Linked DNA regions of Homo sapiens. The protein of the gene in region 5 purifies or fractionates together with the protein of the main gene of each other region. This does not show direct contact. Each region holds a gene or a part of one and is shown on either strand. Other genes may lie near its edges. The genes, in order: PSMA8, PTCD1, RSAD1, COQ8B, SHC2, VWA8 and GATB.

Region 1 (4,257 bases), on a different chromosome or scaffold from region 5:
CACACCTGTAATCGCAGTACTTTCGGATGCCAAGGCAGGAGGATTGCTTGAGACCAGGAGTTTGAGACCAGCCTGGGCAACATAGGGAAACCAAGTCCCTACGTTAAAAAAAAAAGTATTAATAATTAAATAAATTGTTTAAGTCAATTAAAATTCTGATTTAAGTATTTGGAATTCAGGGAATCAAATTTTTCCTCTTTTGAGGAAATTATTCTTTTTTTCTTTTTTTTGGTTAAAGTTGATTTCACCAACTTTAAGATCCTCCCCAGTGGAAAACTGCATATATTAAACAACACATGGAAAGCAATAATAGCTAAACTTACCTGGCTATTACTGCCCACCAGGCACCATTTTATGTAATTATGCCCATAAACACATATTAAGCTCAGAATACTCTGCTGCAGATTTTTTAATATTCCCATTTTATTGATAAGGAGAAAGCGACAGAGTTGTTTCATAGTTAGTAATGTAGCAAGTTGTAAAGAGTTTCTGCTATAGCTAAATTTCCAGACATCTTTTAAGTCTCATACTTTGGGCTTTTACAAAATTTCTCCAATTAAAAGAATATTATCTGGGCCGGGCGCGGTGGCTCACGCCTGTAATCCCAGCACTTTGGGAGGCCGAGGCAGGCGGATCACGAGGTCAGGAGATCAAGACCATCCTGGCTAACACGGTGAAACCCAGTCTCTACTAAAAATATAAAAAATTAGCCGGGCGTGGTGGCGGGCGCCTGTAGTCCCAGCTGCTCCGGAGGCTGAGGCAGGAGAATGGCGTGAACCCGGGAGGTGGAGCTTGCAGTGAGCCGAGATTGCACCACTGCACTCCAGCCTGGGCGACAGAGCGAGACTCCGTCTCAAAAAACAAAAAACAAAACAAAACAAAAAAAAGAACATTATCTTAATTCTCATCATTAGCTTAGTTTGATGGACTATTTGCTTTATTTAACGGACCATTTGCTCATCTGCTCTATTTTGCTCACAAGGCAGAAAATATCAGAAGCAACAATATTTTGAAGTTTGCTTTCTTTCCTTCGGTTCAAATAACAAGAGTTAACCTGAGAGAGAGAAAGAAAAAGTAGGAAATTTAGAATTTGAAACCAAAGGGAAGGGACTGATATTTAACTTACCACAGTTTCTCCAACATGTATGCGATAACAAAAATATCTGATATTTGAAGACCTCATTTTTAAGCCCTAATCTTTGATATTATTTTTATAACTCGAGTGCCGTGACACCATCCCTGGGGCAACACGGTAGTGGGGAAATGGAGATATGCGCTATGCGTCAGACATGAAGGGTAAGGGAAGAATGCCGTCAACTCACAGGCACTGCTTGGGTGACAAAGGCTGGCAAGCGCGAGGACATCCGCAGGCAGCCAAAGGAGCAAGGACTTCCGTGAAGCAGCCGAAGCGCGGGCGCGGGGACTTCCGGGAGGCAGCTTGAGGCGCGTGTGGAAGCGCTTCCGGGCGGTAGCACGCTGTGTTGGCGGCGGCTCCCCGCTTGCCTCAGCTGCAGCAGCGGGAAGCTCGGTGGCAAGCCCTTGTAGTCCTGTGCGATGGCGTCTCGATATGACAGGGCGATCACTGTCTTCTCCCCAGACGGACACCTTTTTCAAGTTGAATATGCCCAGGAAGCGGTGAAGAAAGGATCCACCGCGGTGAGGAAGCAACTATTACCGGACTATTCCCCGCTCTGACCTGTCAGGCCATCGTTACCCTGCTGCCCCAGCCCACCTTTCCATCCTAGGAGCTCAAGAGAGGAGATTCCCACACTTGTGAAAATTACTTTGTTCTTTTTATTTAGGGAGACAGACTTCTAGATTTGGGCCGGAAGTGGGCAGAGTAAAAGTTAGTAGATTTCCCCTATCTCTGCTGTTCAACTGCCTCTGTTTCATGGTAGCTACAGACGCAAAACTAGGGTGTGTGTGTGGGTGTGTGTGTGTGTGTGTGTGTGTCTCTGTGTGTGTGTGTGTGTGTGTAGGGACGTTAATGATGTGATTGACAATAGGGAAAGCTTCTAATCTGTAACAGCCTACCTATTGAACGCTCGTGGTCCAGTTCCTTGGTAGTTCAGAGACCCCTGGAAAAGTTAACAGTTGCTTCATGTTGGGAACTGTTTTTTAATAACAGTTACAATAAAAAATAAAAGTTGGCCACACCTGCTCCCCAAATACGGACTAAATCAATATAAAATTAAACTTTTGTTGATGAAGAAATGATTAAAAACACAGTTCAAACACACGCGTTAAAAATATCCCAAAATTGCTGGGCGCAGTGGCTCACACCTGTAATCCCAGCACTTTGGAAGGCCCAGGAGGGCGGATCACCTGAGGTCGGGAGTTTGAGACCAGCCTGACCAACATGGAGAAACTCCGTCTCTACTAAAAATACAAAATTAGCCAGGCGTGGTGGCGCATGCCTGTAATCCCAGCTACTCGGGAGGCTGAGGCGGGAGAATCGCTTGAACCTGGGAGGCAGAGGTTGCGGTGAGCCGAGATCGTGCCATTGCACTCCAGCCTGGGCAACAAAAGCGAAACTCCGTCTCGGGAAAAAAAAAAAAAATCCCAAAATTGTCCCAATATTTCCCAGCCTTGTAGAGGCTCAAAAGTCCAAGAACTTCCACTTTTTTGGCCACTTAAAAAATAATGCTGGAAGTTCCTTGAGAGATTACACCCTACCTTAGATTTATGTATCCACATTACTGAAAAACTTAAAAAATACTCAGGGTAGGAGTAATACTGCTGCCAAGTTTTAACTACGTTCAATAATTTTAGTGATTTATAAAAATTAAAGAGGACAAAAGTGCCCTAGTGACACAAGATCTATTACCCCAAATCTTCTAAGGCCTAGCCTATGAATTCAAAGGATCGGATATTTTTATTCTCTCAATTTCATGAGCATGTTTGTTGTGTACTTTGGAAATTGAGACAGTAGCTATGAGAATACACAGTACGTTTCTAAGTCTAGCAGTGTCTATATTTTCTGACTTTCTTTGTTAAAGAAGGAAATAATTCACTTTCATTATAAATCTAACAGATGTAAGTGGTAAAAAAAAAACACTAGAAGAAGAATCGTTTTAAAAGTATTTTTCTATTTAATTGGGCCCACTAGTTTTGCTTCTGTTTTGCAAGTAATTTTTTTAGAATTATAAATTTAAGGAAAGCCTGATGTAGCTTAAACCAAAAGGGTACCATTTTGATAAAAACAAAAAGTTATATAATCCCCAGCATAGCATGTAGCATATGGTTAGAAACTAATGGCCAAGTTTTAGAGCCTAAAATAAAGGGAGTAATAGGAGAAGACTAGGGTGTAATAAGAAACCACATTGGCTCATTTAACATGTTTTAAGAGTGCTGTAGAACTGATTGATGGTTCCTTTGTAATAAGCGGTAAAAGGGTAAGGATATAAAAATACCTATAGTGGGCATTTTTAAAGATACATTGGAAGAATGAGACACTTTTGTCTCAGAATTCTGAAATTATAATTTGCATGTTTGCATGGAGTTATTCATTGTGTTTCCTTGAGGGTGCTGTGACCTTTTACATAGGGTAAAGTTTTTTAATGGCACTTGATTATTAAAATATGTCACAAAATATTCTGTCTAGAAGTGAAAATTGATATTATGAGTTACAAATAAGCCAAGGTTGACCAGTTTTGACCAGTATGTAGATGTGATACTATTTAGTAATATAAAAATTATATGGGCCACAATTAAAGGCTTTGTGTTCTACTTCCTTGTTGATGATTATCTTATAGCATGAAAGGAGACAAGAGGCTTGTTTTCTTTTTGCTTCAGTTCCCTTTTCTGTAAATGCAAATTTGTTTAAATAACATTTTGGAGAAGTAATACCTTTCTTCTTAGGGAAAAGAAATGAATCCTTCACAATATTCCCATGAAAACGATAAGATTTATTATCATTCCTCATTTTGTCCTTTCTGTGACCCCAAACTGTTATTAGCTCTGTATTTCCTACTTTATCAAATCTCAGCTCCACAATGTAGCCATCAAAGTCTTCCATAATCCTATCCACCCTCTTAATTTAGGAGGCAGCTTCTTGGTTTCACTAATATGTGTTTCTGCCTACAGAAAGGGGAGAGAGGAAAGGGGAAAACACCTTTCTTTCTGCTGCTCTGCATCTTATTTATCCTTTAACAATCTCTGCACACTTGTCCTCTATAATGAAGCCTTCTCTGATCCACTCCAGTCATCTTGGATCTTTGTCTTTTCTGAATTTATAATCTGTACCACAGAATATTG
Region 2 (3,500 bases), on a different chromosome or scaffold from region 5:
GAGGGTCCTGACTTTATAATTATGCAAAAGTGATATACATTCAGTAGAAACTAACCCCGCACAAAGTCGATCCTTACAGAGTTACATCCTGATAAAACCATTGCAAAGTTGAAAAATCCTGTGTAGAATCATCTTTAAGTCAGGGACATCTGTCTGTGACTTAAATATGATATGCTTTAGGTCTATGATAGTCTTGTGACTGTCGAGTTGAACCCCTAGTGAGCCCTACGCCAGAGGGAAGAGACAATCCACTAGGAAGATATGCACAACATGTGATCAACAAAAAACCAGTACCCAGAATATATAAAAAACCCTGGAATCAATGAGAAAAGGCTTGCAACCAACAGTTCAAAGCACAGACACAGTTCAAAAATGCCCAGCTATGCCTTCAGCCAGACACAATTTCCATTGCTGTCCCACCTATTTGTAGGAAGCCCTCAAAATGGCATTCAGGCGTGACACCTGCACGGCGTTCCTGACCCCGCACCCTCTAGCTGTGTGTGTCCCTGCCCATTTACTTGTTTCCGCCCCATCCGGGCTGTGCTTCAAGCCATAGTGGCTCTCGATGCTCCGGAGATGCTCAGCACAGAGTGTGATTCGATGGACCCAAAAGCCAAACCCCAGAGCCTGATAGCCTCAGAACAGCAGGGAGAGGCTGTGGCCGTGACAAAGCAGATTCCATGACTCTGCCCTGCTCCTGCTGATACAGGAGGTTGAAAGAAATTATTTAGGCAGATAATAAGGGCAACAGAGTCCTTGGCGAAATTTCCCTTTTAATAAAAAGCAGCCCCCAAATAATTTCTTTTCTAACAAAGAGCAGCCTGAAAAATCGAGCTGCAGACATAGATAAGCAAACTGGAAGCTTGCAGGGGTAAATGCTGGCGGCTGTGCCAACAGAAAAGGGCTACCTGGGAGCCAGATATGTTCAACGTGGGGGCCCCATCTTCCCTTCTTTGTTGCCATGTGTACAGTAAAGAACCAGGCAACATGGCGATGGCCACCTGTCTGCATAATAAAAGGTTAGGGTGGGGCACCAGCTTTTATACATGCTATGTAAATGGCACACCTGGTCCAACTAATCTTTTGCGTCCTCTGTAAATCAGACACCACCTCCCCAAGCTCATCTACAAAACCTCTGCATTACACTATGGAAGTGGCAACCCACTTCTCTGGCACCTCTCTCTGCAAGGAGAGAGCTCTTCTCTTTTTTTTTTTTTCACCACCACACCGGGCGAGAGCTCTTCTTTCTTTCGCCTATTAAACTTCAGCTCTTAACCTCTTTTTTTTTTTTTTGAGACCAAGTCTCCATCTATCGCCCAGGCTGGAGTGCAGTGGCGCGATCTTGGCTCACAACAAATCTCAGGTATTCACCCCAGACAATGACACCACTTCACTGCCTGCCCAGTCCCTGAGCAAGCGACAACCTGTTTGGAGTACCCAGCAACGTGCAGGTGCTGGGGACCCAGATGAGCACAGCAGACAGCCTCTGCCTCCAGAAGCCTGATACAGGGAAGGCCAGGGCTGCCCATGAGCACATGATCCAAGACTGTAGGACACGGCATAAAGGAACAGAGTGGGAAGGGGGAGGGGAGACTTTCATCCCAGGTCAGAGCGGCAGCCAGCTGGGCATGTCTGAGGGCCACTTAAGCAGAGACCTCCAGGAAAAGTGGGTGCCACCTGAGGCAGCGGGAACACCAATCCCGAAGCAGGCAAGAGGTTGGTGGCCTCTGCGAACTGACAGAAGGCCACTGGGACAGACAGAGAAAGCAAACGCAAGGCTGAGACATGAGATGAGCCACGCAGACAGGGACTCGCAGGCTGTGGTCTACAGACTTGGGTACTGCTCCTAAGGGAAGCTGCTGGACAGTTTCAAGCATGGCAACACAATCCCAAGGGCCAGAACCGGGGTTGGGTGGTGGGGGGAGGGGGTAGCAATGGTGAAGGAGCTGATGAGCTTTTGAGCTTGGGGCACACACCCGGTCAAAGGTGGGAGGGTACTGGGCTGCAAACTCCAGCTGGCGGATGACCACTTCGTTCACCGGGACCCTGTTCTGCTTCATGTCCTTCAAGATGCTGATGAGATAGGTGTAGTTCAGCTTCCTGATGGCCGCGTTGATGAGGGCACTGTAGATGTGAGTGTTGGGGGTCACCTGGGACTTCTAGAACACAGGGACATCGTAGAATCAAGATGATGGCAGCCATTGGGACCCAGCAGCTCCCACCCTCTGTCAATCAAGCTGGCTCCCGGGACCAGCGGCCAGGGCCAGCAAGGCAAACTTGGCAGCAACAATGTGCTGAATATCCCTCTCCAGCAGGAAAGCCAAGCCCAGCCCCTCTGCTCAGCCCTAAAGAAGCTGCGGAAAAGGACGCTCGTGCTGCTCTCAGACACCGACTGACTCAGGCAGAAAATGATGTGGGAGACACCACCTCCTTGCTCCCTGGGGTGGGCTTCCTGTGACGCACGGTCACCAGGTGGTGGTTGGCCTAGAAAAGTGCAAGCCTTGGCTGGGTGAGCCCGGTAGGGTCCAGGAAAACAGCCAGAGGATGATGGACCTGGGGACACCGACAACCCAGGACGCAGCCTCTGCTGTGGTCGGATGAAATCCACGCAGCACTTCCAATGGGGGTTAGGTGGGAGGCACAGACCTCGGGGGCTTTGAAAACTGCCCACGGCCCCTCAGGAATTCTGAGAATCCCTGCCATACCTCTAGAGTGTTGGGGCCGAGGCCTGTGCCCAGCCCTGTGTCAACCCACGGCCACCTTCTTCCGGATGGGAACATCCGTGTGTCTCTACGCCCAGCCCTGAAGCACTCACTGGGGTCTGCTTCCCCCAAAATGGGACCAAAGACCAGAAGGTCATTGACCCCACTCTCTTTGCCCCATGCACAGTTCATCCTCTCCAGGTGGGGGGTCTGCAGACCCCTCAAACTTTCCTCCTGAGCTGCAGAGTGCTCCTGAGCACCATGGGTGTCCTGCCCAGGCCCGAGTCCACTCACCTTCATGTCTGTGAGAAGCTGTAGACCGTCCTTCGGCCTGTGGCACCCGATGGCCAGGTTGCAGAATGTCTGCAGGTTGGGGACGAGGCCCCTCTTTGCCAGGACCGGCAACAGCGCCTTGGCCCCCTCCAGGTCTCCCAGCTTGCTCTTCTTTCTCACCAGCGTGTTAAAGAATGTCAGGTCGGCCTCTACCTGGTGCTCATCCAGGAGGGCCAGCAGCAAGGACTCTGCAGGACTCCCGGACTCCACCACCTCGGCCAGTAGCGTGAGGGTCCTGATGTCGGGCTGCTGCCTGTGCTCTGCCATCTTGCTCAGGAAGCCCTCCAGGCCCCCTATCAAGGCCAGCCGGTCAGCTGGGGTGGTCACCGTTCCAAAGGAGACCACTGTAGGGGGAACGGCCCCGGGGGTCAGGAGGTTGACTTCCAGCTCCACGGGAGGTGGCTTCAGGGCCACTGCGGTGAGGGCTGCTGTGTGGCTGGGCTCTGCCTTAGTATCCACCTCTGG
Region 3 (2,307 bases), on a different chromosome or scaffold from region 5:
GGCTCTGCTTTATCCAGAGCAGCTCTGGATTTGCTTGATAATTATCTACTGTGCTTCCTATGAGAGGTTTCAGTGCTCCCTAAAAACAAGTGGAAACCCTTTATCTATCTATTGCTTCACAGAGCTCAGAAAATTGAGGTTAAGAGAGGTGAAAGGATTTGTGTCCAAGGTTGCAGTAAAATGAGGGCTGGAACTTGGGTCTCTGCAGCCCTGGTCTAGGGTTCTTAGCTATGCACCACTGCTCACTGCTTCTGCCCATCAGGCCTCAGCTGGACCTGGGCCCCACTTCTAGCTGCCAATCTCACAGAAATTGGAGGTATATGTGTGTGGGGGGGGTGGCAGGGAGGGGGCATTGATTCTGCAAGACTTTAGGAGGGAGTGGTGTGCAAGAATCCTAACTCCTTACCTGGTGAGTGATCCCCACATCGGTGCGTAGCCCCAGGGCCAAAACTTCCTCCAGCCTCAAAGAAAAATCACCAAGGAGTCTTAGAGAGGAGGCCTGTGCTCCTCCCATTCTCCAAATTCTACACTGGGATGCATTTAGAGGAGGCTAACAGGGACCATACAGTATGTGGCAAGGCAGGGGCCAGGACAAGACAGGAAATAAAAGATATACAAATAGACATGGTCTTGGGGTGTGGGGATCCTGGAGGAGAGCCCTGTGCCCTTGGATGCTCACAGCTCCAGCCTGCCCAGGGGGACACGCTTCCGGGTGCCATGGCCAAACAGCATCACCTCCTTCATCCAGTTGTCAGGCTCCAGTGTCTGGATCCGAGCCTCCCGGGTGTGGCCTCCAGCCCCCTGGGGCATAAATCGTCCATGGGCCCCTGACAACATCAACAACCATCCCCACATTAATGGCTGTTAATACTATGTGTTTACCAGATTTAAATCATGTGGTCCCTGGAGCAACTGCCTCTAACATACTGGAAATATAAATTATTTTTCTTTTCTTTTCTTTCTTTCTTTCTTTCTTTTTTTTTTTTTTTTTTTTGAGGTGGTGTCTCACTATACTGCCCAGGCTGGTCTTGGACGCCTGGGGTCAAACGATCTTTCCACCTCAGCTTCCCAAGTAGCTCAGATTAGAGGCACATGACACCAGGCCCTTTTTTCTTTTTCTTTTTTTTTTAATCATCTATCCCAAAATGCCAAGACATATAAATTCTTGGGCTCTCCTCTAGCCCTGTCCAATTGGGAATTCTGAGGGTGGGGCCCAGCAGCTTGGGTTTTAACAAGCCCTCCAGGAGATTCTCATACACACTAAAGGCTGAGAACCCTAGTGCAAGGTGCAACATTAAGCCCCTTATAATTCATGCTCAACAGTTCTATAGGGAGGTATTATTTTTTGCCACATTTTACATATGAGAAAATAGAGGCTTGGAGAGGTTAATGTGGCCCAAGTTCACACAGCCACGACATTCCTCTCCTGAGTCACCCTTTCTGTAGTTCACGGGACTCACCAGGCCCAACGCCAAGGTACTGACCACACTGCCAGTAAGTCCAATTGTGGGTACTGAGCGCCCCCTGCGGGGAGGGAGGAAATAGTGCAGAGTGAAGAGGGCAGGCCTCATTTTTAGACTCAGGTAAGGGGCCCCAGGTTAGAATGTCCCACCATCTCGGCCAGGATCCTTCTCTTCAGAAGGTCACAACGCCCTGGTCACACTGCAGTCTGCCCATCCTCCACCTCCAGCCATCAGCCCCAGAACTTACATTCCGGGCAAAGTTGGAGACCTCATACTGGTGGAAGCCAGCCTCCCGAAGGACAGCCCGGCCCCTCTGGTACATCTCAGCTGCGAGCTCCGGGTCAGGGGCTGGAAGGGCACCCCGCTGCACCTGGGCGAAGAGTGCGGTGCCCCGCTCCAGGGACAGCTGGTAGAGGGAGAGGTGGTCATCACAGTGGTGCAGCAGTTCCTGCAGCTGCCCAAGCCACGGCCCCACCTGCTGTGCCGGCAGCCCCAGCATCAAGTCTACAGACACGCGCCCGGGAAAGAGGCGCCGGGCCTCTGCCAGCGTCCGCAGAGCATCGCAGGCCGAGTGCGTCCGTCCCAACAGCCGGAGCTCAGTGTCATCTAGGGACTGGGAAAAGAGGGTGGGTGTAAGCATACCAGCAGCTCAGAGAGAGACAAGAACCCTCCTCCCCATTGTAGACACAGATACAGGGAGAACGCAGCACGTGGCAGGCAGCTGGAAGGCAGGAGGGGGAAGGTCAAGCTGGCACCAAGAGCTGCCATTCACAGAAGGGTCGCTATGTGCCAAGCACCTTTATGTAGTGTCTAATTTAATCTTTGTAACCCTCCAATATTAGTT
Region 4 (3,500 bases), about 40 Mb from region 5:
AAGCAGCCCCCCACTGCACCCCACCAACAGACACCAGCCCCTTTCTCCCCCAGTGTCTCCCCACCTTGGTTTCAAAGCCTGTGAGGAATTTGAGGTCCCTGGACTTCTGCAGGACACAGTCTCTGTCTCCATCAGCTGCAGCCTTCACCACCTGGGGAGACGGGTGGGAGTTAGAGGGACAAAGGCCGGGGCTCAAGGGGGCTCTGGAGAAGAGGAGCTGGAAGCCTGGGCCTCCCATGTACCCACCTCCATTCTCATCTGCCTGGGCCCTCCCTCACCTGGAAGCTTCCTGCTCCCAACTTTGCCTGTCTGTGACTCCCTTAAAGACTCTTCCAGAGCCTGGGAGTGGAGGTGGTTAGGGATCCTGCCCACCTAGAGGGCAATGTGGGGCCTGCCCGGGAACTGCCACAGTGAAACAGTGCAAGAAACAAGTGTCAGGGCTGCTGGTGAGTCCAAACACTCAACTGGACGGGTATGAGCGTGACCCAGAACTGCATCCAAAGTTGCCAGGGGCCATCTCTCTGTCTCCCACACTGGACTTTGAGCCCCGTGAGAGCAAGGATCCCAGTTGGGTTTAGTCGCACGGGGCACAGGGTCTGGTGCTGAGGAGGCCCTGGGTGAACCTTGCTTTAGCAAATGAGCGTGTGGAGCAGAGCAGCTCTCCAGCCATGAGCTCACACACACAGGGCAGGAGTTGTGGGCATGGAGAGATGCCCAGCTGGGGCCAGCTGGCTAGGGTTCCGTCCCAGCTCTGCCACCTGCCGGCCTGTTGGGCCTCCACTTTCTCATCTGTGAAGTGGGGATGCCAAAAGTGCCTTCCTCATGGGGCTGTTGGGAGGATAAAGAAGGTGATGCCTGTGGCCTGCCTGGCGCTGTGTCTCATGCAGGAAGCACCGTAAATACTATAATCTACCATTATTAAGAGGTGGGCACGGGGGTCCCTATTTCACAGAAGGGGAAGCAGACCCGGAGTAGGGAGTGGAACCGGGTCACACCACTCACTACTGGGTTGCCCTTTTTTGTGAGGAGGGGGATTCGGGATTAATTCCATTCCCTCTCTGCTCCCCCTGCCCGAGCATGTCTGGCCATCTGTCAGGCCTGTGGTCCTCAGAAGCCAGGGCTTTTATAAAGTGGCAAAGGCTGCAGGCCTGGGTGGGAGGGGAGGGTGTCAGTGGGGAGAAGAAGGGTCTCAGCTTTGTGCCTCAGTGGCCGGCAGAGAGGGCCCCAAGGGGCCTGTGTGTAAGGGGTTATCACCTCCTCTTCCTGTTCCTGTCTCAGAGGTGGCCCCACCAGTCCCCAGACCAGACCCCTAGACACCTCTGTCCCCAACTTCTAGCCCGTCTGCTCCCATGGACTGCCAGCTGGGCATCTCCCAGCCACCCCTCTGCCCCTCTCCACAGCTGCCCTGAGCTCCCACCCCCAGGCTTAGAGACCACTTCTTATTCAGAGGGAGTTTTCAAATTCTGACTGCATCCCTTCCCTGCTCAAATCTTTTCCACGGCTCCGCAGGGCACCTGGATACAGTACGAGCTGTAGAGCGCAGCCTCTAAAATCCGCAGTGATTTGCTGCAGCCTCGTCACTGTGCTGCCCCCCGACCTGCCCTCCCACTCAGAATGGGAGCTTCCTTTGGGTGCTCTAGGGCCTTACTACTACCAGTGTGGTCCCCATACGGGTAGCCCTGGCCTCACATGGGTGCGTGTCAGAACATAGCATCTTACACCCACCTCCAGACCAGAATCTGCACTTGCACAGGATCACCAGGCTTCACATGCACATCCAAGTCTGAGAAATGCTGCTCTAATGGGACTGTCCCTTATCACTGCCTCGTCTTGGCACATGTTGTCTATCTGAAATACCCTCCGAGCCTTTTCCCAGTTGGCCCCCCTCATCCCTCAGGTCTCAATGCTGACACTCCCTCCTCCGGGAAGCCCTCCTTGGCTCCCCAGGCTGGCTCAGGCTCCTCCTCTGGGCTCACAGTGCCCTGCGCTTCCCCCATCCCAGCCCTGTCCATGCTAGGTCCTCACTGTCGCCTCACTGACTATGAGTTCTGTGAGGAGGGGCCTAGGCTGGGCCCAGGTCACTGCTGTGTCTCCAGCTTTGCCTAGAATAGAGCTGGGCACAGAGGAGGGGTCAGAAAACATTTAGATTGGCTGGGCAGGAGGGCTCATGCCTGTAATCCCAGCACTTTGGGAGGCCAAGGCAGGAGGATCACCTGAGGTCAGCAGTTCGAGACCAGCCTGGGCAACATGGTGAAACCCCATCTCTACTAAAAATACAAAAATTAGCCGGGCGTGGTGGCACATGCCTGTAATCCCAGCTACTCGAGAAGCTGAGGCAGGAGAATCGCTTGAACCCAGGAGGTGGAGGTTGTGGTGAGCCAAGATCGAGCCACTGCACTCCAGCCTGGGCGACAGAGCAAGACTCTGTCTCAATTAAAAAAAAAAAAAAGAAAAGAAAAAAAAGGAAAAGAAAACGTTTAGATTGATGGCTACATGATTAGAGGACCCAGGGCAAATGTCCAATCTCAACAACGAATGAAATGGTATTCTCTGCAGCCTCTAAGACAAACTGACCCCAGTGGGTGGGAGAGACGAGCCAAGTACGTGAGGAAACACCTCCTGTAGACAGAGTTGCCCCCAGGGACACACACCTGGGCTGGACACCAGGGCCCTGGACAGCATGGGGTCTGGAGAGGTGACAAGATGGTCACTGTGGGCCTTTCTCTTAGGAGGGAGCTGGGCAGTGGTTGGAAGCTTGGGCTCTGGACCTGGACCACCTGAATTTGAATCCCAAGTCTGCTGTGATCTTGGGCACGTGACTTAACCCCTCCAGGACCCAGTTACTTCATCTGGCCTAAAACGGGCCTAAAAACGGTCCTTTTCGCATTGTGTTGCTGTGTGGTTTATATCGGTTCCTATACGTAAGCACTAAAGATGGAGCCTGACATATTAAGTGCTTGGTGTGTGCTAGTTGCTACGAGTATTACTATTATTTATTATTTCTTAATTCCAGAAACTGCATTTCGCCTTCTTACTCCTCTGCCTCAGTATATGGCTTGAGCCTCAGCCTTTCAGAGGCCCTGGGGTCTGGGGGAGACTCACCTCGATGTAATGGTCTGTGAACTCTGTCCCAAACTCCCGGCTTGCACCAAAGTCCAGCAGGGTCACCTGGAAGCAAGGAATGGTGAAAGGAATGCTGGGATCCCATTCACACCCTCACTGTCTATTGGGGCAGCCAGGATCTGTCTCCCTCCCCATGACCCTGCCTGCTCCTGCCAGAGTCCCTGCCTGGCTGCCTCACTGGGCTCCTGGCCTCATCTCCCGTTTCCAACCGACCCCCTAGCTGAAGGCTTTTTTTTCTTTTAGTTCTAATTGTTTATGCAATAACAAATTTTAGACCCAGAAAAAAAATCCAGAGAATAATAAAAGATATAGAAAAGTAAAATGAATACTCACAAATCCTGCCACCCAGCCTAAAATATAAAATACTCCCCATCCGG
Region 5 (3,500 bases):
CACACACACACACACCCGAAGCAGCCACGGGAGGGACGGCCCCACACTCCTGACTCCCTTGTCCACGTGCAAGGGCACCTGTGAGTGCATTTGCATGCTTATCTGCATGCTCATTTGTATGCTTGTTTGCCTACTGATCTGCATGCTCGTTTGCATGCTCATCTACTTGCTCGTTTGCGTGGTCATCTGCGTGCTCGTTTGCGAGCTCATCTGCGTGCTCGTTTGCGTGCTCGTCTGCGTGCTCGTCTGTGTGCTCATCTGCGTGCTCGTCTGTGTGCTCATCTGCATGCTCATCTGCGTGCTTGTTTGCATGCTCATCTGTGTGCTTGTTTGTGTGCTCGTCTGCGTGCTTGTTTGCATGCTCATTTGCATGGTCCTGCTTCATTTGCTTCCCGTCACTCAAATCCCTCTAGGCCCCAGTAAGCCCCCGATACCAGCCACGTCCTGAGTCCTCCCTACAGAACATCCACTTCTCAGCCCCCATAGGGACCCTCGAGGCTCTCCCCTTGCCAACCCCGGCCCAGCCAGGAGGGTCTGCTTGGAGCCTCAGTATCCTGTCCATATAGTGGTCAGGGGTCCATGCCTCGCAGGGTGGGGGCAGAGATGGAAATTGCGTGGAAATGGCCCTCAGTCACCCCCCCGCCAGCTCCATCCTTCTCTAGCCTCCTCCCTGGAGCCCCAGCTGCCCCTCACCGCCACCTGCTGCCACCACACCAGCTCAGAGATGCTGTCTCACCCCAAACTCCTCACGATGATCCATGCTAACTTCTCCGACAAGGCGATGCCTCCTCTTTCAGCCACACCTGAGATTCCCCTCCTCACCACCTCCCAGAGCCCTCCAGGAAGTCTCTTCTAGCACCCAGAGCCCAGCACATGCTCAGGACACCCCTCACCTGGCCTCACAATGCTTCCTAAAATCTGTTATTTCCTCTATTTCTGCAATTATAGTTTTTTGTTTTTTGGTTTTTTGAGACAGAGTCTCACTCTGTTGCCCAGGCTGGAGTGCAGTAGTGCAATCTTGGCTCACTGCAACCTCCACTCCCAGGTTCAAGCGATTCTCCTGCCTCAGCCTCCCAAGTAGCTGGGATTACAGGCGCCCACCACCACACCCGGCTAATCTTTGTATTTTTTGTAGAGTCAGCCATGTTGGCCAGGCTGGTCTCGAACTCCTGACCTCAAGTGATCTGCCCACCCCTCAGCCTCCCAAAGTGCTGGGGTTACAGGCGTGAGCCACTGAGCCCGGCCTCACAGTGCTGGGGTTACAGGCGTGAGCAACCAAGCCCGAGCCTGGTCTGCAATTATACTTTTGTTGTTTGTTTCCACTTGAGGACTGATAGCCAGGGTTTATCCCCGCCCCTCCCCAGGCACTGTGGATGTTGGGACGGACCACTCTCTGGGGTGGGGCGTCCTGGCCCCTGCAGGGTGCTGAGCAGCGTCCCTGCCCCCACCCACTCCATGCCAGGAGCGCCCCTGTATCAGGACGGCTCGCCCAGGTGGGAGCCCCTGAGCTGAGCCCCGTGAGGGCAGTGGCTGCACCCCCAGCTCCTGCTCAGCGGGGCCTCGGCTCGTCTTTCTGGATAAACGCCACCTGCTGCCCGCCCCCAGCACCCCACCTGGCTTTGCCTCCTAGGACTCCTGGCCCCTCTGGGGGTCTGGGGACGCCAGGCGAAGAGGGCAGACCCACCTGGCGCGTGGCAGGCACGGAGAGGCTGAGGCCATCAGTGGAGATGTGGATGGAGATGCTCATGCCGGCAAAGCGAAGGTTGCTCTTGCCCAGGACGGACGCCAGGGCCTTGTTGGGGGCCTGAGTTGGGGGCGGAGCACAGCGAGGGCGGCTGTGGGTGGGGGCTGTCGAGGGGCTCCCAGGATGGCCGCAGCGTCCCCACAGCCCCCGACTGCCCCACCAGCCCCACGAGAGACCACAAGCCTCACTCACCTTTTTCTTCCAGGATCCCCGGACGCCAGGCACGGCCTCATGGAGCCGGTTGATGGCTTCCCTGGGGTTGGGAGGAGGGGGCTTAGAGAGTGTGGTGGGGGTGGCCATGGAGGGAGCTGGGGAGGAAGGGGTCAGAGAGGGCGGGGGTCTGGGGAGGGGGCAGGAGCTCAGAGAAGGGCGAGAGAGAGGGGAGAGGAAGGCAGAGAGGGAGGGGTGGGAGAGGATCAGGGGGCCTAAAGTGGGCAGGGAGGGGGCTGGGGAACCTGGGGGAGGAGTGCCCCACAGGACAGGTGCAGCTTGGGCACCAGCCCACTCCACGTGCGTCCTTGCATCCGGCAGAGGCCCGGCCCCCAGCTCTGGCCCCTCTACCACCCTCTTTCCCAGGGACCAGTGTGTCCCTGGCCTCGGCCCACAAGGAAGGCTCGGCATCAGATGTGGGGGTTGGAGCAGCGAGCAGGAGGCCCTGAGCCTGACGCGGGGTCCGTGTCGAGATCCTGTCTGCAGCCTGAGTGGTGGCAGGAGCTGACCCCAAACAAGAGCGCCTCAGACCACTGGTCCCCAGGAGAGGTTAGAAGTCTACAGGGTCCTGAAGGGGCCCCGGAAATGTCGGCGTCACGTGGAGAAACCAGATCCCCCACCCAGGGCATGTGGGAATTTTCACAGCACGGCCACTGTGGAAAACAGCCTGGGGGCTCCTCAAAAGGTTAAAAATTGGCCAGATGCAGCGGCTCCTGCCTGTCATCCTAGCACTGTGGGCCTGACACAAACAAATGCATGCAGGCGCGGCGGCCCCCACCTGTCATCCCAACACTTGGGGAGGCTGAGACGGGCGGATCACCTGAGGTCAGGGGTTCGAGACCGGTCTGACCAACATGGAGAAACCCCGTCTCTACTAAAAACATAAAAACTAGCTGGGTGTGGTGGTGGGCGCCTGTAGTCCCAGCTACTGGGGAGGCTGAGGCAAGAGAAATGCTTGAACCCAGGAGACAGAGGTTGCAGTGAGCCGACACGGTGTCACTGCACTCCAGCCTGGGCAACAGAGTGAGACTCCATCTCAAAAAAAAAAAAAAAAAAGGAGCAAGGCTCTGACCCAGGCCACAGCGCGGACACACCTCGGGAACGCCATGCTCAGTGAGAGACGCCAGACACACGAGGCCACGCAGCGTGTGATCCCATTGCTATGAAATGTCCAGGACAGGCCGATCCACAGAGACAGGGAGGGGATGCGTGGGTGCCGGGGCTGGGGAGGGGACGGGGAGTGGCTGTGATGGGGACGGGGTGTTTTGATGGGGTAATGAGAATGTTCGGAACTAGACAGTGGTGATCGTGTGACTCTGTGAAGAGCCTAAAGTCTCAAACTGTACATTATATCTCACATACGCACGTGTAAACTGTCTCACATGGTTTTTTTAAGTCTATACGAATGGAATCAACCAGTTTTCACAGAAAAAAAGGGTGTCGCTCTCTTCCCTGCTTAAGCCCTGGCCATATCCACAGCCCCTGTGATTGCTTTCCAGACACCGCATAGCATCCTGAGGTCACCGTGTGGAAAACAGAGCAGGGA
Region 6 (3,500 bases), on a different chromosome or scaffold from region 5:
CCCAGTGGCATAAATGCCAAGAACTGGCCAGGTGCAGTGGCTCACGCCTGTAATCCTAGCACTTTGGGAGGCCAAGGCAGGCGGATCACTTGAGGTCAGGAGTTAGAGACCAGCCTGACCAACATGGTAAAACCCCGTCTCTACTAAAAATACAAAAATTAGCTGGGCGTGGTGGTACGTACCTGTAATCCCAGCTACTTGGGAGGCTGAGGCAGGAGAATCGCTTAAAGCCAGGAGGCGGAGGTTGCAGCAAGCCAAGATTACGCCACTGCACTCCAGCCTGGGCAACGGTGCGACACTCCGTCTCAAATAAATAAAAAATAAAAGCCAAGAATTCCTACATGAAATAAGCAAAAGCAGGCAAAAGTTTTCAGTAAGTTCTATACAGTTCTATTTTTTAATGTAACCTTAATTTCCGAGTGATCTTCTAAAGCCGAGGACTAAACTGAATAATCTCTCCCCGCTGTGCTCTCTCTAACAGCAAAATAGGCATGGTGATACCATTTGCATCTAGAATTTCATTTGGAAAGGGCTCAGAGACACTCCAAAAAAGTAGTCGTGCAAAACTCATCTTTCAGCACTGCCAGTTTAAAGCTAGCAAGATACCTTGAACACTAAGGCCTTAAATCATGGTACTAATAACAATAGCCAACATTTGTTGAATGCTTACTACCTTCTAAGTATTTTTTGCATTCTCAAAATAATCCTATGAGACAGAAATTTTACAAATGAGAAAATTTGTAAATCCATAACAGAGTTTTTAACAGATAAAGAAATTTATTACAGGTATGTGGTAAATTGAGAGAGGAAGATAAGGACTACACACAAAGCTAAATCCCTGCTAGGTCCAAAACTGGCAGCCAGAAAAAAGCAAGGCAAAAGATGATGAGGACCAAAATTCAAAAGCCTGCAAAGCTCCTCCATAACCCGTGCACCGCTCCCTTTTCCTCCCCTGTCCAATTAACTCTTTGTCTTCACGCAATCTATCACAGAGATTCTCAAAGCATCAACGTCACCTGGGAACTTGTAAGTCATATAAATCTTCAGGCCCCACCTCAGACCTACTGAATTAGAAACCCTAAGGTCCAGCAATCGGTGTTACAATGAGCCCTCCAGATGATCTCTAATGCATGTTTGAGATCATTTGGTCGTTTAAGTTCTAACACCCTCAAAAAACAGGTGGTCAGCAGTGCCTCATATAGTACAATCTTAGTTACTGCCAGGTATTGGTTGACTGGTCATCTCGCCCTATTTTCCTTAATGCAGGAAAGAACCTATAAATTAGCTACTTTCTACAGTAGCTTTTCTTTTAAAAGATAAGCTTGCTTACAAATATAAGTGATATTATCTACTGGCTTTTATTACAGAGTAGTTTCAAGAATTATAGTTACAGTATTTTCAAATAGGATGTCTTTACAAATGTTATTTCACTTCCTGAAAAGACTGTAATTATTTGGCCTCCTGACAAAATGATACTGAGTAATTAATCTGAACATAAGAAAAACGTTTTCAGGCACAGGTTCTCATTACAAACATTCCCTGAGTGTTAGAGCTGACCGACATCATCCTTCTAATAAATAATCTAGAAAAAGGGCAGACTATACAAATTCATGGTAACTTGACAATTGGCTGTCCATTTTTTTTTTAAAAAAAGTAAAATTCATACCTCACATTTCTGAAAGACAGTACATTCAAACTGAGTAACTGAGGAGAGTACAAAAAGGGAACTATTTACAAAGGTATAGCAGAGTTTACGGAAACCAAAAAAGATGGTGCAGTATCCTAGGACTAGCAATAACAGAAAGTCATTACCGCCCCTAGGCCTGAAGGGGCAAGGGGAGAGAGCAAGCAGAGAGGGTCACTGTGTTAGGAAGCCTCCTTCTGGGTAACACAGCAAACCCATAATGGTGACCTGGCAGGGAGGGAGCTGGGAAATAAACATGAAGCAAAAACGGACAGAACTAAAAGTGGAAATAGAAAAATGCACAATCACATCTAGATATTAATAGCTTTAAGTAGCTCTCTTGGTAAATAATGGAAGAAGTAGGAAAAAATAAAGAAGGATACAGGATAAGGATAATTTTTTCTCAGCCTTCTGGCAAAGACCAAGTATAGACGTAAAGAAAGAGAAGATTGGAAAACATTATTAATCACTTGGCCTAAATGACATTTATGGAACACTACACCCAACAACAGAATGCATATTCTATTTATTATTTATTTAAGTATTACTGCAAGTATGTTTTTATTTTCTCAACCTATCAACTGAATATTGTATTTTATAAAGCACTTTTTAGTATTGTAATTGGTTCCTCATGATCAGAATGCATATCCTTTTTAAATGCACATGGAACATTCACCAAAATAAATTATAGGCTGGACCATAAAGCAAGTCTCAAGGAATTTAAAGATGAGACCAGGCACAATGGCTGGTGCCTATAATCCCAGCACTTTGGGAGGCCGAGGTGGGTGGATCACCTGAGGCCAGGAGTTTGAGACCAGCCAGACCAACATAGTGAAACCCCATCTCTACTAAAAATACAAAATTAGCTGAGCGTGGTGGCTGGCACATGCCTGTAATCCTAGCTACTTGGGAGACTGAAGCAGGAGAATTGCTTGAACCAGGGAGGCGGAGGTTGCAGTGAGCCGAGATAGCGCCATTGCACTCCAGCCTGGGCAACAAGAGTGAAACTCTGTGTCAAAAAAAATTAAAAAAGAAAATTAAAGGATGGAAGTCATAAAGATTATGTTTTCTTACCACAGTGGAATTAAACTGGAAATCAGTAACAAAAAGGTAACTGGAAAATCCCCAAACATTTGGAAATCAAGCAACAGGCTTCTTAAAAAATCCAAAAAATAAATCACAACGGAAATTGGACTCATTGGGAAACAGGGTGGTGATCAATGAGCCACATCTGCAATAGACAAAAGGGAAAAGTTATGACATTCATATGGACCAGGCATCTGCCATCTCTGCCTCAAACATTGATGTTCTTGGCCATCTTCTGTTACTACACTACACTTTCCTCAGTCATTTAATCCATACCAATGTCCCAACTCTGACCTCTATACAACCTTTTTTTTTTTTTCAGTTAAGGGTACTCTTCAAACACCATATACAACTAATTCTTTAAATGTCTATTTTGGCTCAGATCTCTCTCCTGAGTTTCATACCTGCCAGTAGCCTACTGGAGACTTTACCTAGATATTCCAGAGACAACTCAACAAACACACAGAAACAGAATTCTATATTGTCCATTGTGTGCGCCTAACCACCTCTAACCAGCTCCACCTCTTGTATTCCTATCTCAGTGACTAACACTTTATCTCCTCAGCCTAGAAGACCTTCCACATCTCTCTCACACCACTTGCCCTCTACACAACTACTACTGAAATATCTTCATCTCCCCATTGAACCTTCCCTAACTTTTCCTCTAGCACAAATTGATCACTCCATTAGTCTTTCTGCTAGCACAGGATCTGATTTATGCTTCTGTAAT
Region 7 (3,500 bases), on a different chromosome or scaffold from region 5:
GAGAGATTAAGCAACCCCATGCAGATGACATGACTTGGCAGAAGTGGGGCTGGGCCCAATATCTCGGTCTGAGATTGCTGCCTACCCAGGGCCCTTACCCTGGGAGTCTGGGATGGGCTTCAAAGGCTCTGGTATCCCCAAAATTATACACAAAGTGTGGGTTGTGTGCATATGTGCAGGTTTTGGAGAGAGGGTCCAGCATTTACATTATCTTTTCAGAGGGACCCACGACCCCAAATGATTAAGATCCAAGGACCCATGCCTCAGCATCAAATGAGGGAGGCTGTGGGAATCAAAACACAACCACAATTGCTAAGCTGTTGCTGCTTTTTTTTTCTTTTTTTGAGAGATGGGGGTCTCACTATGTTTTCCAGCCTAGTCTCAATCTCTTGGTCTCAAACAATCCTCCTGCCTTGGCCTCCCAAAGTGCTGGGATTACAGGCATGAGCCACTAAGCCCAGCCTGCTAAACTGCTTTATGAAAATATCTTGAGCCTCCACCTTAACTCTCCCTCCCACCATGTACTACCTTCCCTTGCCCAAACCTAAACCCTTTTATCTGAGTTGCTAAGAGGCAGCAACAGCAAAACGTGTCAGTTTTTGCTCCCCATCTCTCCCCAACTCCAGTGATCTCTTTGGTTGACACGAGATGATGGCTAAATGGCCTGACATAGGGAGAAAAAGGTGGTGAAAAATCACAGGCTTGGAGAATTGAACCCATAGTAAAGCTTTGGCTCTTCCACTCTGAGTCAGACCACAGGGAGATTTCTCCCTCAGACTGGTCCTCCAAAGAGTTCTTCATAGGACAGGAGAAGGTTAGGGGTCTCCTTCAGAACTCATGGATGACTCTACCTAAAATTGGGCTGCTTTTTTAAGGTTACCATCACCACCTCTTAAAATAACGGGTCCCAGCCCACTACCTACAGGGGGAGGTGGAACTTCCTCCATTTGTTCCAGGCTTCCTCCTCACCAACTTGGCTTATAAGGGTTTTCCCTGACTCAAACCTTTCATGGCTTTGGGAACATGGGCTATGTCCCTTTCCGGATGCAGAACAGTTCACCATCTTTAGTCTGCCTTCATATAGGAGCCTATCCCTTCCCTCTCTGCTCCCATAAGCTATCCGTTTGACCACTTTAATGCCTTTTTCCTGAAGACTGTCTTCATTGAGTGGTTGATTCACTTCAGGTTCAGGACAATAAGGTCTAATACAAGACTAGAATCATCTTTTCTGTACTGTTTCTAATACTTTTCTTGACAAGACCAGGGCTCTATTAAACATTTTGGCTACAGCAAAACTTTGGCAACAGATTCAGTTGTCTTGGTCTCTGTGCACCCTTGAAGGGGTGCACTTCAAACTCCATCCCTCCCTCTTCCTCTCTAGATAGCTTCGGTTTTAAAAAATCTTTTTAGTCCTCTGAGGTCCTCCCCTTGAATTCACAGTTACCTATATCTACGGGACTGCTCAGATATTTATCTTGCTAAACTATTTTAGTTATTATACATTTATCATCAAAGAAATACCCACAGTGTGTGCTCCAGAAAGACTACTACTTCACTGCATGGGCACATAATCTAGCAGTTAAAAAGAATATAAAAAGCAGGAAAACATAATGACCATTTAGGTCAAGCCATGGTCAATCTAAAATGAACAACCATGACCTAGTAAATCTCAAGCTGGTCAGAAAGAAGGTGGTAAATGGTAAAACACAGCCATGATCTTTTGTGGATCCTCTGATAAAGAGGTGGAGTCTAATTTCCCCTCAAGTCTGCTTTGAATTCAATGTAATTTTCTTTTTTTTTCTTAGAGACAGAGTCTTGCTCTGTCGCCCAGGCTAGAGTGCAGTGGCGTGATCACAGCTCACTACAACCTCAAACTCCTGGACTCAAGTGATCCTCCCACCTCAGCCTCTTGAGTAGCTGGGACTACAGGTGCTCACCACCATGCCTGGCTAAATTTTTAATTTTTTATAGAGATGGGGTCTTGCTATGTTGCCCAGGTGGTCTTGAACTCGTGGCCTCAAGCAATCCACCCACCTTGGCTTCCCAAAGTGCTGGGATTATAGGCATGAGGCACTGTGCCTGGCCTCAATCTACTTTGAATAGAACACATTGGAAGTGACACTGTGTGAGGTCTACAGCTTAGGACTCACTTCTGCCTTCATCCTCCCGAAATGCTCCCACTGCCTCATAAGAAAGCCAAGGCTAGGCAAGTGCATGAAGAAAGATCACATGGATGGAGAAGCCCAGCAGACATCAGCATCAAGGCCCCAAGGTATGAGAGCGACTACCATGGACCCTCTGCTTCAGCTGGCCTGCCGGTTTCCCACAGCCACATGAGTGAGCCGACACAGGACCAACAGAACGGACCAGTGAAAACGAAAGTAGTTCTTGTGTAAGCCACTAAGTTTCTGGGTTGTTTGTTACCCAGCAAGAGAGAAACAATAGGAAGAAGGACACTAGGAGCGGCAGCTGGCATTCACCTATGGCTTTGGCCAGGAACCTGATGCTGTTGAGATTCTTCACTTCCGTTCGAACGCCCAAAGGCTCCCCAGGGTGATGCACGGATATATTGGCATCCACTCTCAACTGGCCCTCTGGAAGGAGAGAAGAAAACAACTCCTTAGAAATTCTTTGAGGTGACATAGTCTTTTAAAGGCAGGGAGTGTCAAAGGAAGCAGCATCTAACTCTACCTGCTGTTTAGTTATAGCAGCCTAACTTCAGAGAAGGCACGGTTGGTTCTGAAGTAGGTCGTGGCTGGTACTTCTGGCCACTCGAGAGGGGTTACAGTCCTGAGGCATCTACAGTGTGTGCCTGTACATGTGAACATATACAGATGTGTGTGCTTATGCACATATGGAAGAGAAGTTTTAGATTCGCCAGCTGGAGAGATCTAATTTTTTTGTGCTAAACAAGAAAAACAAAACTATTAAAATGGAGATTGACTCTGCAGTTTTATACTGAAGTTTTTTTTCAAAGTGTCAGAGCTGAGTTGGAGGAAAGGCCTCATATATCTGATAACCCTACACTGCTCTCCATTGGAATGTGGATTTCTAACAGTGATTCCAGGAGATTTAGAGGAGAGTCCTTGAGAATTTGCAGCTCAAGGGCAAGAACTGAAATCTGGGCTTTCCCCCCTCCTCCTTCCTCCAGGTACTGTAATAATCTCTTCCTTCCACAAACATGACTCCGAATCCTTCCTGACTGCTCTAACGATTTGCTACAGCAGACAGACAGCACTGTTACGAAGTCAGGAGTCTGTGGTGGGACTCAGAGAGGTGCTGACCCCATGCTGGGAGGACCTTCTTTGACCCTGGAGGCCCCTCAGATTAGGAGCAACAAGCCCTAAAGAAGCAGGCAATGTGTGGGGAGGACTAAAAGGCTCTTGAGGAAGAGAGAGAGAGAAAAATCCCAAGACAAATAGATGTAGGTAAGAAAGAATCACATTTGGCACCCTACAAAGTAAAGCTCTCAGATTCTCTGTTCCTCGTTTCATTTACAA

The links.
Region 1: the proteins of SHC2 (region 5) and PSMA8 purify together in Homo sapiens (affinity purification with mass spectrometry; one large-scale study listed by BioGRID and IntAct). This does not show direct contact.
Region 2: the proteins of SHC2 (region 5) and PTCD1 purify together in Homo sapiens (affinity purification with mass spectrometry; one large-scale study listed by BioGRID and IntAct). This does not show direct contact.
Region 3: the proteins of SHC2 (region 5) and RSAD1 purify together in Homo sapiens (affinity purification with mass spectrometry; one large-scale study listed by BioGRID and IntAct). This does not show direct contact.
Region 4: the proteins of SHC2 (region 5) and COQ8B purify together in Homo sapiens (affinity purification with mass spectrometry; one large-scale study listed by BioGRID and IntAct). This does not show direct contact.
Region 6: the proteins of SHC2 (region 5) and VWA8 purify together in Homo sapiens (affinity purification with mass spectrometry; one large-scale study listed by BioGRID and IntAct). This does not show direct contact.
Region 7: the proteins of SHC2 (region 5) and GATB purify together in Homo sapiens (affinity purification with mass spectrometry; one large-scale study listed by BioGRID and IntAct). This does not show direct contact.

What each region holds. Positions count from the first base shown.
Region 1 is NC_000018.10:26,132,412-26,136,668, forward strand, and holds the start of PSMA8 (proteasome subunit alpha-type 8), read left to right. Parts: upstream 1-1,457; 5' UTR 1,458-1,554; coding exon 1,555-1,656; intron 1,657-4,257. UniProt on the Homo sapiens protein: Component of the spermatoproteasome, a proteasome specifically found in testis that promotes acetylation-dependent degradation of histones, thereby participating actively to the exchange of histones during spermatogenesis.
Region 2 is NC_000007.14:99,421,799-99,425,298, forward strand, and holds part of PTCD1 (pentatricopeptide repeat-containing protein 1, mitochondrial), read right to left. Parts: coding exon 2,997-3,500; intron 2,160-2,996; coding exon 1,977-2,159; intron 1-1,976. Other genes in the region: ATP5MF-PTCD1 (ATP5J2-PTCD1 fusion protein), read right to left, coding at 1,977-2,159, 2,997-3,500. UniProt on the Homo sapiens protein: Mitochondrial protein implicated in negative regulation of leucine tRNA levels, as well as negative regulation of mitochondria-encoded proteins and COX activity. Also affects the 3'-processing of mitochondrial tRNAs.
Region 3 is NC_000017.11:50,481,860-50,484,166, reverse strand, and holds part of RSAD1 (radical S-adenosyl methionine domain-containing protein 1, mitochondrial precursor), read right to left. Parts: intron 2,077-2,307; coding exon 1,711-2,076; intron 1,525-1,710; coding exon 1,461-1,524; intron 828-1,460; coding exon 680-827; intron 462-679; coding exon 407-461; intron 1-406.
Region 4 is NC_000019.10:40,692,887-40,696,386, forward strand, and holds part of COQ8B (atypical kinase COQ8B, mitochondrial), read right to left. Parts: intron 3,169-3,500; coding exon 3,103-3,168; intron 152-3,102; coding exon 65-151; intron 1-64.
Region 5 is NC_000019.10:437,034-440,533, forward strand, and holds part of SHC2 (SHC-transforming protein 2), read right to left. Parts: intron 1,998-3,500; coding exon 1,937-1,997; intron 1,805-1,936; coding exon 1,685-1,804; intron 1-1,684. UniProt on the Homo sapiens protein: Signaling adapter that couples activated growth factor receptors to signaling pathway in neurons. Involved in the signal transduction pathways of neurotrophin-activated Trk receptors in cortical neurons.
Region 6 is NC_000013.11:41,951,110-41,954,609, forward strand, and holds part of VWA8 (von Willebrand factor A domain-containing protein 8 isoform a precursor), read right to left. Parts: intron 1-3,500. UniProt on the Homo sapiens protein: Exhibits ATPase activity in vitro.
Region 7 is NC_000004.12:151,705,508-151,709,007, forward strand, and holds part of GATB (glutamyl-tRNA(Gln) amidotransferase subunit B, mitochondrial isoform 1 precursor), read right to left. Parts: intron 2,595-3,500; coding exon 2,481-2,594; intron 1-2,480. UniProt on the Homo sapiens protein: Allows the formation of correctly charged Gln-tRNA(Gln) through the transamidation of misacylated Glu-tRNA(Gln) in the mitochondria. The reaction takes place in the presence of glutamine and ATP through an activated gamma-phospho-Glu-tRNA(Gln).